2 linked regions of the Homo sapiens genome follow. The protein of the gene in region 1 interacts with the protein of each later gene in a biochemical or structural test. Each region holds a gene or a part of one and is shown on either strand. Other genes may lie near its edges.

Region 1 (7,027 bases):
AGGTAAAGCTGGTAAGAGGCAGAATTTGGATCTTGATTAGTGTAACATTCCCCTGTCTCTTGTTACTGTAAAATGACTAACTACAAATACAAGATGATTTTCTGGACTACTATTCACCCAGTTGCTATCTCATTTAGATTCCTGTATCTAATCCAGTAGCAAATTCTGTAGGTTCTGCTTTCAATATATGTACTAAATCAGACACTTTCCCCCCTGTCTTTCAAACCTCTGTTCACTTCCATCATTTACTGCCTGGCCTCCTGTATTAGCCTACTTTGGAGCAGCAGCTAGTGTTATCTTCTTAAAATATAGACCATGTTACTCCCCTGCTAAAAACTGTAGAGGTTCTCCATCACACTTACATTAGAATCTTGCCTTCCCCCCCACCCCTTAGCTATAAGGCCCTGCATTCATTTGGGATGCCTACTTCTGAGCGCATCTGCACTTCTCTCTCTGGGTCACTCCACTGTAGCCACACTGTTGCTTTGCTGTACCCTGAACAATAAGTGGTTGAGCTTATTCCAGTCACAGGACTTTCCTCCAGTTTGTTGCATTGCTTGCTTTGTCCAGTTGTTCCGTTCTTAGCTCATATGTCATACCCTCTACCTAACCTGTCCCGTATAAACCAGTTTCCCTTTTTCCTCCCCCACAATTTTATCCTCCTATCTCCCTTTCTTCTGTATAAGTGCTTATTACTGTTCGAAGTTATGTTATTTACTGTTTATTTCTCTCTATTCCCCATTAAACCTTCATGAAGTTAGGGACTCTTGGATATCCCGGGCATTGCTCATTCGTGCCTAGACCAATCCTTGGCACATAGTAGATACTGAAATATTAATAGACTAACTGAATAGATGAGCCTTAATCTCAATGAGCAATAATTTGACATTGTTACTCCTTGGTATATTCTGTCTGAACCAATGTCTGAGCTAAAAGTTAAAGCTAGTCTCGTTTTCCACCCATAAGCTCACTTAAAAAGGACATCAATCTTTTACATTATTTCTTTTTTGTGTGCCTACTCTGCTTATGTATCTTTTTTTATTAACTAGGAAATGCACACATAGAGCACATTTGAAAGGCTCTGAAGGATACGTAGAGAATCCCTCATCTGTCCTTCAGCATTCCAGTTCCCCTGCTTAGAAAACCACTGTTTTTGTTTGTTTGTTTGTTTGTTGAGACGGAGTCTCCCCCTGTTGCCCAGGCTGGAGTGCAGTGGTGCAATTTTGGCTCACTGCAAACTCCACCTCCCAGGTTCAAGTGATTCTCCTGCCTCAGTCTCTTAAGTAGCTGAGACTGCAGGCATGTGCCACCACACCTGGCTAATTTTTAGTAGAGATGGGGTTTCACCATGTTGGCCATGCTGGTCTCAAACTCCTCTTCTCAAGTGATCCACCTGCCTCAGCCTCCCAAAGTGCTAGGATTACAGGTGTGAGCCACTGCACCCGACTTCAACCACTATTTTTATTGTGTATCCTTACAAGAAGACCAGAGCAACTTTCTGCTATAAGTTAGGCGTCTTCTCCTTCTCATGCAAATACCTTGATTCCCTTCTCTTCCCCTCTAACCACCTATGTATCTTCAAGTTGACTTTTTTTTTTTTTTAAGAGACAGACTGCTGCTTTGTTGCCCAGGCTGGAGTGCAGTGGCTTTTCACAGGCGTGATCATAGTACACTATATACATACAGCCTCGAATTCCTAATATCAGGTGATCTCTACCTTCAGCCTCCAGTATCTGGGATTACAGACATGCATCATAGTGTTCTGCTTTGGCTCTTTTTTTTTTCTCAAAGGGCTGTTTAATGGAACCTTATGGTTAGACTTTATTTTATTTTTTCAAATATTGGAAATTTAATACTTTTTCAGTAGAGATGGGGTCTTGCCATGTTGCCTAGGCTGTTCTCGAGCTCCTAGGCTCAAGTGATTCTTCCACCTCGGCCTCCCAAAGTGCTAGGGTTAACAGGCATGAACCACCGTGCCTGGCCTAGACTTTATTGTAACTAATTGCTTATTCATAACTTTCAGAATGTTTCCTAAATTGTGCTATATAAAAAATGCTGTAACGAAGTTTTGTATGTATGGCATTTTGCACAAGTGTGAGTGATATTGAGTCTTAGTAGTTCTGTTTTAAGCTAGAATCTTTAGTTTCGTTTTTCTGCCTTATCTTCTGGACCAAAGCTCTTTTAGCCAATAAAAGTGACTGAAGCTGGGCATGGTGGTTCACACCTGTAATAACAGCTCTTTGGGAGACTGAGGCCCAAGGATTGCTTGAAGCCAGGAGTTGAGACCAGCCTGAGGAACATAGTGAGATCTCCATCTCCACCAAAAAAAAAAAAGTGAGCAGTTAAAGCTTAAAGTCATAAAGGTTAGGAGGTACCTAAAATGTCCCTCAAATGAGAGGTTCTGCATAATCCTGTCATAAAGGAGAATCACTTTCGGGAACCGATAAGTGAGATCTATAGTTATGGCCTTGGTCAAAACCAAATCTGTTTCAGCTTTACATGTTACGTTGATACAGTGACTGACATTCCTTTAATGGTCTTTTCAGAATTAATCATGAGGGCTGAGCACTGTGGCTCATGCCTATAATCTCAGTACTTTGGGAGGCTGAGGCGGGAGGATCCCCTGAGCCCAAGGTTTCAAGACTGGGCTGTACAACATAATGAGACCTTGTCTCTACAAAAAGATAAAATGAAAATTAGCCAGGTGTTGTGGCACACATCTGTAGTCCCAGCTACTCAGGAGACAGGTGGGAGGATTGGTTTGGCCCAGGAAGTTGAGGCTGCAGTGAGCCTAGATCGCGCCACTGCACTCCAGCCTGGGCGACAGAGTGAAACCCTGTCTCAAAATAGTAATAATGATAATAATGAAAATGATAAAATACAGTCTTGGGAAAAAGTAGTTAACTTACCCTAGGGGTTGACTTATTTGATTAAAACCTAGTGAGTCAACCTGCTGGAATTAGAATTTTACCAGTCTTTCGCAGAATTTACTTTATGTCTCCCTTCCCCACTGGTCCCTTGTCTATGGTGCTTAAAAATTTACTTAAGAAAATACATTTAATTAATTTTTTGAAACAGGGTCTCTGTCACCCAGGCTGAAGTGCAGTGGAAAAATTTACTCTTCTATTTGGTGTGATTTAGCCTCAAATTCTTAAAAATCAGATACAGTCTGATTTTACATTGAGACTTGAGTTTACTTTTTTAATAGGATTTTTTGAAGTACACACATTTTTTCCTGTTACTGTTTAAAAGCCACTCATTTGATAGGTATTCTAGTGCATAAGGTATTTTTTTTTGTAAGAAAAGTGATTTAGAAAACTCACCTTTTATTTATTTGAGACGGGAGTCTTGCTTTGTTGCCCAGCCTGGAGTGCAATGGCACAATCTCGGCTTACTACAACCTCTGCCTCCCAGGTTCAAGCAGTTCTCCTGCCTCAGCCACTGGAGTAGCTTTACTCTCTGCCTTGAACATTTTTTTTTTCTTATTTTGAGATGAAGTTTTGCTTTTGTTGCCCAGGCTGGAGTGCAATGGCGTGATCTCGGCTAACTGCAACCTCTGCCCCCTGGGTTCAAGCAATTCTCCTGCCTCAGCCTCCCTAGTAGCTGGGATTACAGGTGTATGCCACCACGCCCAGCTGATTTTTGTATTTTTAGTAGAGGCAGGGTTTCACCATGTTGGTCAGGCTGGTCTCGAACTCCTGACCTTTGGTGATCTGCCCACCTCGGCCTCCCAAAGTGCTGGAACTACAGGTGTGAGTCACCGCGCCTGTCCTATCTGTTGTTTTAAGCTCTGAAAATACTTGTCTGATAATGTTTTCTTCCAATTAAAAAAAGGCATGGAAAAGTTACCATGATGTTTCAGAAATATATGTACCTCCAGGTGGGGGCAGGGAAACTTAGCCAGGTATGGTGGTTCATGCAGTAATCCTAACAGAAGACTGAGGCAGGAAGATCCCTTGAATCCAGGAGGCCGGGGCTGCAGTGAGCTATTAGTGGCACCACTGCACCCCAGCCTGGGTAATAGAGGCAAGACCCTGTCTCTTAAATAAATAAATAAATAAATAAATAAATACAAACTCATTATGATGAAGACAGATTTGTTATAAGTTGTAATTAAAATCACCTTTGGAATTTAAGAAAAAACTTGTAAAAAATTTGACTAGGAACAGTGGTTCTTTAGTTCTTTCAGTTGTCTCACTTAAGAATTTTCTGACCTCTTCCTAGGAAAAAAAGCTATTTTTTTTAACGTATGACTTCTGGGGATTCAGATTCTTGCCAAGTTTATTTGTGGATTCCCTAGGTCTCCATGTGCTCCATGTTAAGAATCCTTGAACTGCTTTTGATAGTGATTAAACTTTCAGGCTCTAAAGATACTGTTTTAATATACTATCTAATGTTTTGATTATGAAATGTGAGCATAACTGAAAGTAAGTTAAAAATAGCAGTCAGTTCAGTATTCTTTTTTAAGCTCCTCTGTGTCAAGCAGTTCCTTTAGTCCAGATTGATCAACTCCTGCACAAGTGAAATTAAGTTTTGTCAAATTATCAAGTACTTTAGTATTCACTGTGCTAAATGACTGTGACTGGAAATGTTATGCATTTGCTTTGCTCAAGTTTGGAATTTTTTCCACACGTGTTAATGACCACTCTTAAAACCAGAGTTTTTTTTTGTTGAGACGGAGTCTCGCTCTGTCGCCAGGCTGGAGTGCAGTGGCACGAACTCGGCTAACTGCAATCTCCACCTCCCAGGTTCAAGCGATTCTCCTGCCTCAGCCTCCCGAGTAGCTGGAATTACAGGCACGCGCCACCACACCCAGCTAATTTTTTTTTATTTTTAGTAGAGACGGGTTTCACCATGTTGGCCAGGATGGTTTCAATCTCCTGACCTCGTGATCCACCCACCTCGGCCTCCTAAAGTGCTGGGACTACGGGAGTGAGCCACCAGAGTTTTACACATTAGAGAACATCTGTTCTATCCTTTTCTTTCTCTGGTGAGGAATTTGTAGGCCAAAGAAGTTGGATGACCAGATTCCTGATGTACAATTCGGTTCTTCTTCTTTTTTCCCTATACCTTATAGGATAGTTTACCTGTGTAAATGGATTTAAGAAGAAAATATGCTACAGATTCAAGTTGTATGGATTCTGAACACACATTATGTTTTCTGTTATAATGAACTATGGATGCATATGTGCTATAGAAATAAATACTAGAAACAAGGAAATGAGGACAGCAGCATCCAGCAGGGGCTTTTGACATTACAATTATAGTAATCAGAGTTCTGATTTAGGTGCCAAATTCGTATCTTATACAGTGCTGCTTTCTAAAAACAAAATAAATATGAGAGGCATAGTTTATGTAATAATATTATATCAAGGAAAAGAATTCTTATGTGTGTATGCGAAAAACGAGTTGGACTGTTGTTTCATTAGAGTTGAAATTTTCTTTGCAAATGTAATATATGAAGGAATGAATGTGGATATACCAATTAGGCAATTAAATAATAGGGAATCTTTTAACTTCAGCTAAAATCTTAGCAGCTTTTAAAATTTCTTCCCAAGTGAAGTGATTGATGGCCCTAGGGTCTTTTGTGGCAGAAACATGACTGTGTGGTTGGAAGAACTGGATAATTGGTTAAGAGCCCTCAGAATCAACAGAAATACTTCATTATTATTCATTCTTTCAAGGGCTACATGACACCATTGGGGGCATTTTATATTTTTTAAAAATCCTGGCCAGGCGCGGTGGCTCACGCCTGTAATCCCAGCACTTTGGGAGGCCGAGGCAGGAGGATCACAAGGTCAGGAGATCGAGACCATCCTGGCTAACATGGTGAAACCCCGTCTCTACTAAAAATACAAAAAAATTAGCTGGGCGTGGTGGTGGGTGCCTGTAGTCCCAGCTAGTCGGGAGGCTGAGGCAGGAGAATGGTGTGAACCCGGGAGCAGCAGAGCTTGCAGTGAGCGGAGATCACCCCACTGCACTCCAGCCTGGGCAACAGAGCAAGACTCCGTCTCAAAAAAAAAAAAAAACCTGAATGAAGCTATTCTAAAATTTCTTGAGTACTTAGGCACAGACATTTTTGGTTTTGAATTGGCCAGTAACTGAGATGCTTCTGAATAATTAGGATTCTACTGTAATTTAAAGTAATTTTAGATACTGGTTTCAGAATCTAAGGTTGACATATTTTGCATTAAAACAACTGGCTATGTTGTCTTTAGATTTTCAATTTTTTTTTTAGTTTTCAATACCTTCACATTATGTCTCTGTCAGTTTGGTTAATTTTGGGCAAATGAATTTATATTTTGAAAGTCTTTACAGTTCTAGGGATTGAAGGCATTGTAGTTAAGGAAACACTAGAAAGAACTAACAAATTTATATCATGAAACCATTGGTGATTTTTTTATTGCTCTGTAACTTTCTTAAGATTATAGCTTATACTCGGGAAAATGTTAGTAAGTAGCTGTTTTGTTTTGTTTTTTTTTTTTTGTGACTCTTAAAGACAACTAGATTACCATCTTACTATGAGGCAGGGACAAAGTGGTTTTAGTAACATAGGCCGATCCCAAGGCCAAATTTCAGTTTTCTGTAACCTTGTGATTTGCGTGTCTCTTTATTATCCATTCATGAGATTTTTTTTCAGTTCAATTAATTGGACATTCATTGAATGCATAATATGCATTTACCAGTAAGCCAGGTGAACAAGAAAGGCATCCCTGTGTAATGGAAAACACAGTCATGAAACAAATTTCTGTGGCCCAGGCTGGAATGCAGTGACGTGACTTGGCTCACTGCAACCTCTGCCTCCCGGGTTCAAGCAATTCTCCTGCCTCAGCCTCCTGAGTAGCTGGGATTACAGGTGCACGCCACCACACCCGGCTAATTTTGGTATTTTTAGTAGAGACAGGGTTTCACCATGTTGGTCAGGCTGGTCTCAAACTCCTGACCTCGTGATCCGCCCGCCTCAGCCTCCCAGAGTGCTGGGATTACAGGCAGGAGCCACCGCGCCCAGCCGAGGAAGTGTTTTTAA
Region 2 (7,027 bases), on another chromosome or scaffold:
CCCTGCTAATTTTGTATTTTTAGTAGAGATGGAGTTTCCCCATGTTGCCCAGGATGGTCTCGATCTCTTGACCTCGTGATGTGGCCACCTCAGCCTCCCAAAGTGCTGGGATTACAGGCGTGAGACACCATACCCAGCCCTGATTTTTTTTTTTTTTTTAACTGCAAATGTGTAGTCATGAAGAACATAGTGATTACTAATGCAGTTTGGCCACTGTCTTGATTTGTGCTACAGGGCCATTAGTTTAATGCACCACTGTTTTTTGCACCATCAGTGCAAATGTCAACTGGTGTTCACATCAGTTACATAGAAAATGAGAACTTGGTAATATTCTGAAATAGTTTCAACCTGGTAGACCTCCTGAACACTTGGAAGAGCTACCTCAAGAGTCAACAGACCACACTCTGAGAACCACTACTCTGGATGCACATATAAAATACAGGAGGAAAGAGATACATCTTCAGAGAAAAGACTTGGGTCATAGGAAGATAAGAATGGCAAGGAGCCTTGTTTTTTTTCCCTGTACATTCTTTGTACCTTATAAATTTGGTACACTTTGTATATATTACTTTTCTCTGAAAAAATTAACTTAAAAAAAGACACTTAAACTGACATGAAAACTAAGTAAAAATTAAGCATATTAGTAGAAATATAAGTACACAAGTAAATACAAACAAATATAAGCATACTACTTATAAATATAAAGGTATAGACTACAGAAATAATTTTTGAGAGCTAAAATGTTTCTGTTTAAGCAGTACAACTAGGAGATTAGGAGAGTTGCATAGGAAACCACTGTTTTTCATTGTAAGTCTTTTGAAACTGACTTTTAAAACCGTGTACAGATATTAATTGGTTGAAAATTTAAAATATTCAAAATATTACTTTGAAAAAACACACATTAAGTTAGATTGAATAAGTAAATAAAGCAAATATCCATACACAGGTGAGAAACTGGCTATGAAATATACCAAGATGTAACAGTAACTGCCTGGGTAAAAAAAAAAAAAAAAAAAAAAAAAAAAAGAAAGTACTGATGAGTTTTCAATCACATACAAAAATTCTGTTTCATAATTTTTTAATTTTTTTTTTCTTGAGATGGAGTCTTGCTCTACTGCCCAGGCTGGAGTACAGTGGCATGATCTCGGCTCACTGCAACCTCCACCTCCCAGGTTCAAGCGATTCTCCTGCTCCAGCCACCCAAGTAGCTGGGATTACAGGCATGCACCACCCCACTTGGCTACTTTTTTTTTTTTGCATTTTTCAGTTGAGACAGGGTTTCATCAGGTTGGCCAGGATGATCTTGAACTCCTGGCCTCAAGGGATCCATATGCCTCGGCCTCCCGAAGTGCTGGGATTATAGGTATGAGCTACCGCACCCAGCCCAATTTTTTGAACTCATTTTAAAGTTTCTTAAAAAGCAACAGTTTTCTTCAGATTAGAATGTTTGATGACTTAGTTAAAAATAGTTAAAAGTATAAACTTCAGGTTTTTAATAAACAGTTAAGTGGCTAAACATACACACACAATTTTTTCTCATTTCATATGATCACAATTAAGAACATAACTCATTATGTATTTGAAAAAGAAAAGAAGAAAAAAATTGCTTTATGACAATAAGTTGCTGAGTCTTACGTGATTACTTCATAAAATCTTCAAAGAAATATAAACCTACTATCAAAAATCTAATTTAAATTTAGTTTCCTAGCGATGTCCTGATGCATGAAAAAAAGATTATTCCTGTATATAAATAACACAACAGCAAATTGGATTGCTCACTAAAAGGAACCAGGGTTCCATGGAAAACGGCTCATTCCAAGACTGACAAAGGAAAGAAATAAGATGTGCTTGCAACATCTTGCTGTGCCAGAAAGACAGGAAATACTTAAAAAAAAAAAAAAAAAAAAAAAAGGCCGGGGCACGGCATCTCATGCCTGTAATCCCAGCACTTTGGGAGGCTGAGGCAGGTGGATCACGAGGTCACAAGGTCAGGAGTTCAAGACCAGCCTGTCCAAGATGGTGAAACCCCGTCTCTACTAAAAATACAAAAATTAGCCGGGCATGGTGGCAGGCGCCTATAATCCCAGCTATTTGGGAGGCTGAGGCAGAGAATTGCTTGAACCCGGGAGGCAGAGGTTGCAGTGAGCCAAGATCGCGCCACTGCACTCCAGCCTGGGAGACAAGAGTGAGACTCCGTCAAAAAAAAAAAACAAGAGGTTATGTTAAAAAGACACAGGAGCCCACTTGGAAAGGCTCCTAATGGACAAATCTGGGACAATTTGAACATCAAAATAAAGGTTATAATGGGTTATTTAACCCACTGAATAAAACAGGAAACACACAATTCTGTATTAATCAGATAAAAGAATGTCTCTTCCTTATAAAAGAATGTCCATTAGTGAAGAAAATGGATGAGTTACAAAATAAACACTTTCCAACCATTAGAGTAAAGATCAGTAAAGATCAGCATAGGCAAGAAACATCAATGGATGCTACATGGGCCTTGGGGGATGTGGGGAGTGATGAGGAACAGGATGATCTGATGAGGAGCAGAGTAGCTGCACTATCTCAAAGTTATCCCCACAGATTGCTTATTAGGTGCACTGTTCCACATTACAGGAGACTAAAGAGATATGACAACTAAATGCATTTTGTGATCCTGAACTGGGTCCTATGAGGAAAATGCTGTAAAGGGATAAATGCTATTATCAGGACAATTCGACAAAACTGGAAAATGAGCTGTAGATTAATATTATCAAAGTTTAATTTTCTGAATTTTGTAACTGGTGCAGTGATAACGCAAAAGAATACAATACACAGTGAATATTTAGAAACAAATGGGCATAATGCAATGTAATGGGCATAATGTAAGCAATTTACTTTTAAATGATTCAAGAGAGAATAAGGGGCCAGGCGCAAAGGCTCACCCCAGCACTTTGGGAGGCTGAAGTAGGCTGATCACTTAAAGTCATGGGTTTGAGACCAGCCTGGCCAAGAGGGTGAAACCTCGTCTCTAACTAAAATACAAAAATTAGCTGGACGTGGTGGCGGGCACCTATAATCTCAGCTACTCAGGAGGCTGAGGTAGGAGAATCGCTTGAACCTGGGAGATGGAGGTTACAGTGAGCCGAGATCACACTGCTGCACTCCAGCCTGGGCAACACAGCGAGACTCCACCTCAAAAAAAAAAAAAAAAAAAAAAGAGAGAGAAAATAAGAAAGCAAGAGTGACAACATTAAAAATTGGTGAATCTGAATAATGAGTATTCAAGAGTTCTCAGTACTATTTTTTAAATCTTTCGGTAAGTTTGAAATTATGTCAAAATAAAAATGTAAGTAGCCAGGCGTGGTGGCTCACGCCTGTAATCCCAGCACTTTGGGAGGCCAAGGCGGGAGGATTACTTGAGGTCAGGAGTTCGAGACCAGCCTGGCCAACATAGCGAAACCCCATCTCTACCAAAAATATAAAAAATAACCTGAGCGTGGTAGCGTGCACCTCTAATCCCAGCTACCTGGGAGGGTGAGTCAGGAAAATCACTTGAAGCTGGAAGGTGGAGGTGACAATGAGCCAAGATGGGGCCACTGCACTCCAGCCTGGGCCACAGAGTGAGACTCCATTAAAAAAAAAAAAAAAAAAAAAAAATTTAAGTAACAACAAATTGGGATGTCAAAAGATAGTAAAATAAGTAATTTATTCGAGTGCCCTATAGTACATATGAATAAGGGAAATGACTACAACATTGATTCAGACTTGACACCTAGCCATATATAGAATTTCTTAAATTTTCTATTTGGTAGAAAAGGAAAAATATTTTTTAAGAATCCAATCACATACAAACTAAACTAAGATGCTAATCGTGTATGCCCTCAGGAAAACACAAAAATCTTCTCCATGTTAACACAATCCACACTGCCAAACTCTCCTTTCCACCAGCAAGCCATAAGCCCCTTCAGGCAGGTGTTAAGAGCCTGCCCTTTGTTTTAACTCAAGCACTGGCACAGTGCCTGAAATACAACACTCCTGTTTGTTGAATAAATACTGAACATTTACAAATAGAAACGAAATACTGTATTTTTATCAAAATGAAAAGAAGCGTGGAAGGGAACAGACACTTAAATATGGTACTTTCACAAATTTTGAGATGGAGTCTCACTCTGTTACTCAGGTTGGAGTGCAGTGGTGCAATCTCAGCTCACTGCAACCTCCACCTCCTGGGTTCAAGCAATTCTCCTGTCTCAGCCTCCCAAGCAGCTGGGATTACAGGCACCCACCACCACGCCCAGCTAATTTTTGTATTTACAGTTATATTTTTTTTATTTTTGTGTTTTTAGTAGAGACAAGGTTTCACCATGTTGGCCAGGCTGGTCTCGAACTCCTGATGTCAGGTGATCCACTCGCCTTGGCCTCCCAAAGTTCTGGGATTACAGGTGTGAGCCACTATACCTGGCCACTTTTACTAATTATTTTAAAACATTTTTATTTACAATTGAACATTTTCTTTTTTTTGAGATGGAATCTTGCTCTGTCACCCAGACTGAAGGGCAGTGGCGCAATCTTGGCTCACTGCAACCTCTGCCTCCTGGGTTCAAGTCATTCTCCTGCCTCAACCTCCCAAGTAGCTGGGATTACAAGCACCCGCCACCATGCCCGGCTACTTTTTGTATTTTTTAGTAGAGACAGGGTTTTGCCACGTTGGGCAGGCTGGTCTCAAACTCCTGACCTCAGGTGATCCGCCTGCCTCAGCCTCCCAAAGTGCTAGGATTACTACAGGTGTGCACCACCATGTCCAGCCTAAACATGAATGAACGTTTTCAAAAATATATTATTTTATTTTATTTCATTTACTTATTTATTTTGAGATAGGGTCTGGCTTTGTCACCGAGGCTGGAATGCAGTGGCACAATCTCGGCTCATTGCAACCTCTGCCTCCCGGGCTCAAGCCATCCTCTCACCTCAGCCTCCCGAGTAGCTGGGACTACAGGCATGTGCCATTATGCCTGTCTAATTTTTGTATTTTTTTGGTACAGCCAGAATTTCGTCACATTGCCCAGCCTAGTCTCAAACTCCTGGGCTCAAGCAATCCACCTTCCTCAGCCTCCCAAGGTGCTATGATTACAGGCATGAGCCACTGGGCCCAGCCAAAAAAATATATTTTAAAATATGAACAATTTTCAAACCTCACAAAAGCAGAGAACAATATTATTAATACCCATGTACCCATCACCCCAACCCAACAATTATCCAGATTGTGCCAGACCTGCTTCATCTATCTTATCTCCCTCCACCACATTTTTTGGTTTTTATCTGGTATCTGTTTAAAATAACAGACATTGCTGGGCACGGTGGCCCACGTCTGTAATCCCAGCACTTTGGGAGGCCGAGACGGGCGAATCACCTGAGATCACGAGTTCAAGACCAGCCTGGCTAACATGGTGAAAAACCGTTTCTACTAAAAATACAAAAAGTTAGCAGGCGTGGTGGCGCGCTCCTGTAATCCCAGCTACTCAGGAGACTGACGCAGAAGAATTGCTTGAACCCGGGAGGTGGAGGCTTCAGTGAGCTGAGATCACACCACTGCACTCCAGCTTGGGCAACGAGGGAAACTCCATCTCAAAATAAAATAAAATAAAATAAAATACCAGACATTTGCAAGTTTTCTCCCTCATTCCTCAGTCTCTATCACTAATAAAAAGTGGTCATTTTCTTACATAAACATAATGCCATTATCATCCCTAACAAAGTTACAATAACTCCTTGATATCATCTAATACCCATCCATATTCAGATTTCCCCCAATGTTTCAAAAATGACTTTCTACAATTGGTTTGAGTCAGGGTTTAAACAACACCAACATATTGTATTTGGTTACTACACATAAAATAATTTTAATCTGTCTACATCATCTGACAGCAAATATGAAAAGCTTAACAGACAAACCAAATAATTAATTTACATTTGTAGATTCTCTAGAATCAAACCTCACCTAATGCATTTGCCGCCCCTGCTATCTGTAGCAGTCTTCCTCCAAATCGTCACTATGGCTGATTTTTTCTAGTCATTGAAGTCACAGGTCAAATTACCACCTCTAAAAAGGCCCTCCCTAACCACTCAATCTACAGTAAAACCACTTCCATCCATGCCGTATCACATGGTCCTATTTTCCTCATGGCACTTACCACTACCTGAAACCATTCTGTTTATTATGTTCCCACACACAGAACAGAATGTCAGCTCCATGAAGGCAGAGTGCCTTCACTGAAGACCAGTGACTGTGCCTAGAACATGAGACATTCAATAAATGTATCTACGTAATAATGCAGTACCGCTCTTTAAAATGTAAGCTCAGCTAAGTATTTGGAGGCTTTTTTGTTGTTTTGTTTTTTTTCAAGATGGAGTCTTGCTCTGTCACCCAGGCTGGAGTGCAGATCTCAGCTCAGTGGAACCTCCACCTCCCGGGTTCAAGCAATTCTGCCTTACCCTCTTGAGCAGCCAGGATTACAGGCGCATGCCACCACCATGCCCAGCTAATTTTTGTATTTTTTTTTTAGTACAGACGGGGTTTCACCATGTTGGCCTGGCTGCTCTCGAACCCGACCTCATGATCTACCCGCCTCGGCTTCCCAAAGTGCTGGGATTACAGGTATGAGCAAGCGCACCCAGCCTCAGCTAAGTATTTGTCTTTAAATATTTGTAATTCACTCCTCATGTAATGATATAAATTGAGTACCTGTAGAAACCTGGGCCAGCTGTTACCAAGAATCTGTAGGATGTAGGAAAGAAACAAACAGAGGTATAAGACATTCAAATGTAATTGTGGACTTTTACTGAACAATAATTACAGGTTTCTGAAAGAAAAACAAATTATTCCAGATGATTTTTAAAATGTTACCAGGAGTAATAAAAAATTTCATTTTTAGTACCATCTGAAAGCTATTAAAGCTTCAGTAATTAATATCTACAATGGGACAACAATAGCAATAATATGTGGAACAACAATCATAGTTTTTTTGTTTGTTTGTTTTGAGAA

What was found. The genes of interacting proteins can lie anywhere in the genome.
Region 2: the proteins of UBE2N (region 1) and RNF111 form a complex in vitro, tested with the Homo sapiens proteins (4 studies listed by BioGRID).

The regions. Positions count from the first base shown.
Region 1 is NC_000012.12:93,431,936-93,438,962, reverse strand, and holds part of UBE2N (ubiquitin-conjugating enzyme E2 N), read left to right. Parts: intron 1-7,027. UniProt on the Homo sapiens protein: The UBE2V1-UBE2N and UBE2V2-UBE2N heterodimers catalyze the synthesis of non-canonical 'Lys-63'-linked polyubiquitin chains. This type of polyubiquitination does not lead to protein degradation by the proteasome.
Region 2 is NC_000015.10:58,990,649-58,997,675, reverse strand, and holds part of RNF111 (E3 ubiquitin-protein ligase Arkadia), read right to left. Parts: intron 6,761-7,027; exon of another isoform or gene 6,728-6,760; intron 1-6,727. UniProt on the Homo sapiens protein: E3 ubiquitin-protein ligase. Required for mesoderm patterning during embryonic development. Acts as an enhancer of the transcriptional responses of the SMAD2/SMAD3 effectors, which are activated downstream of BMP.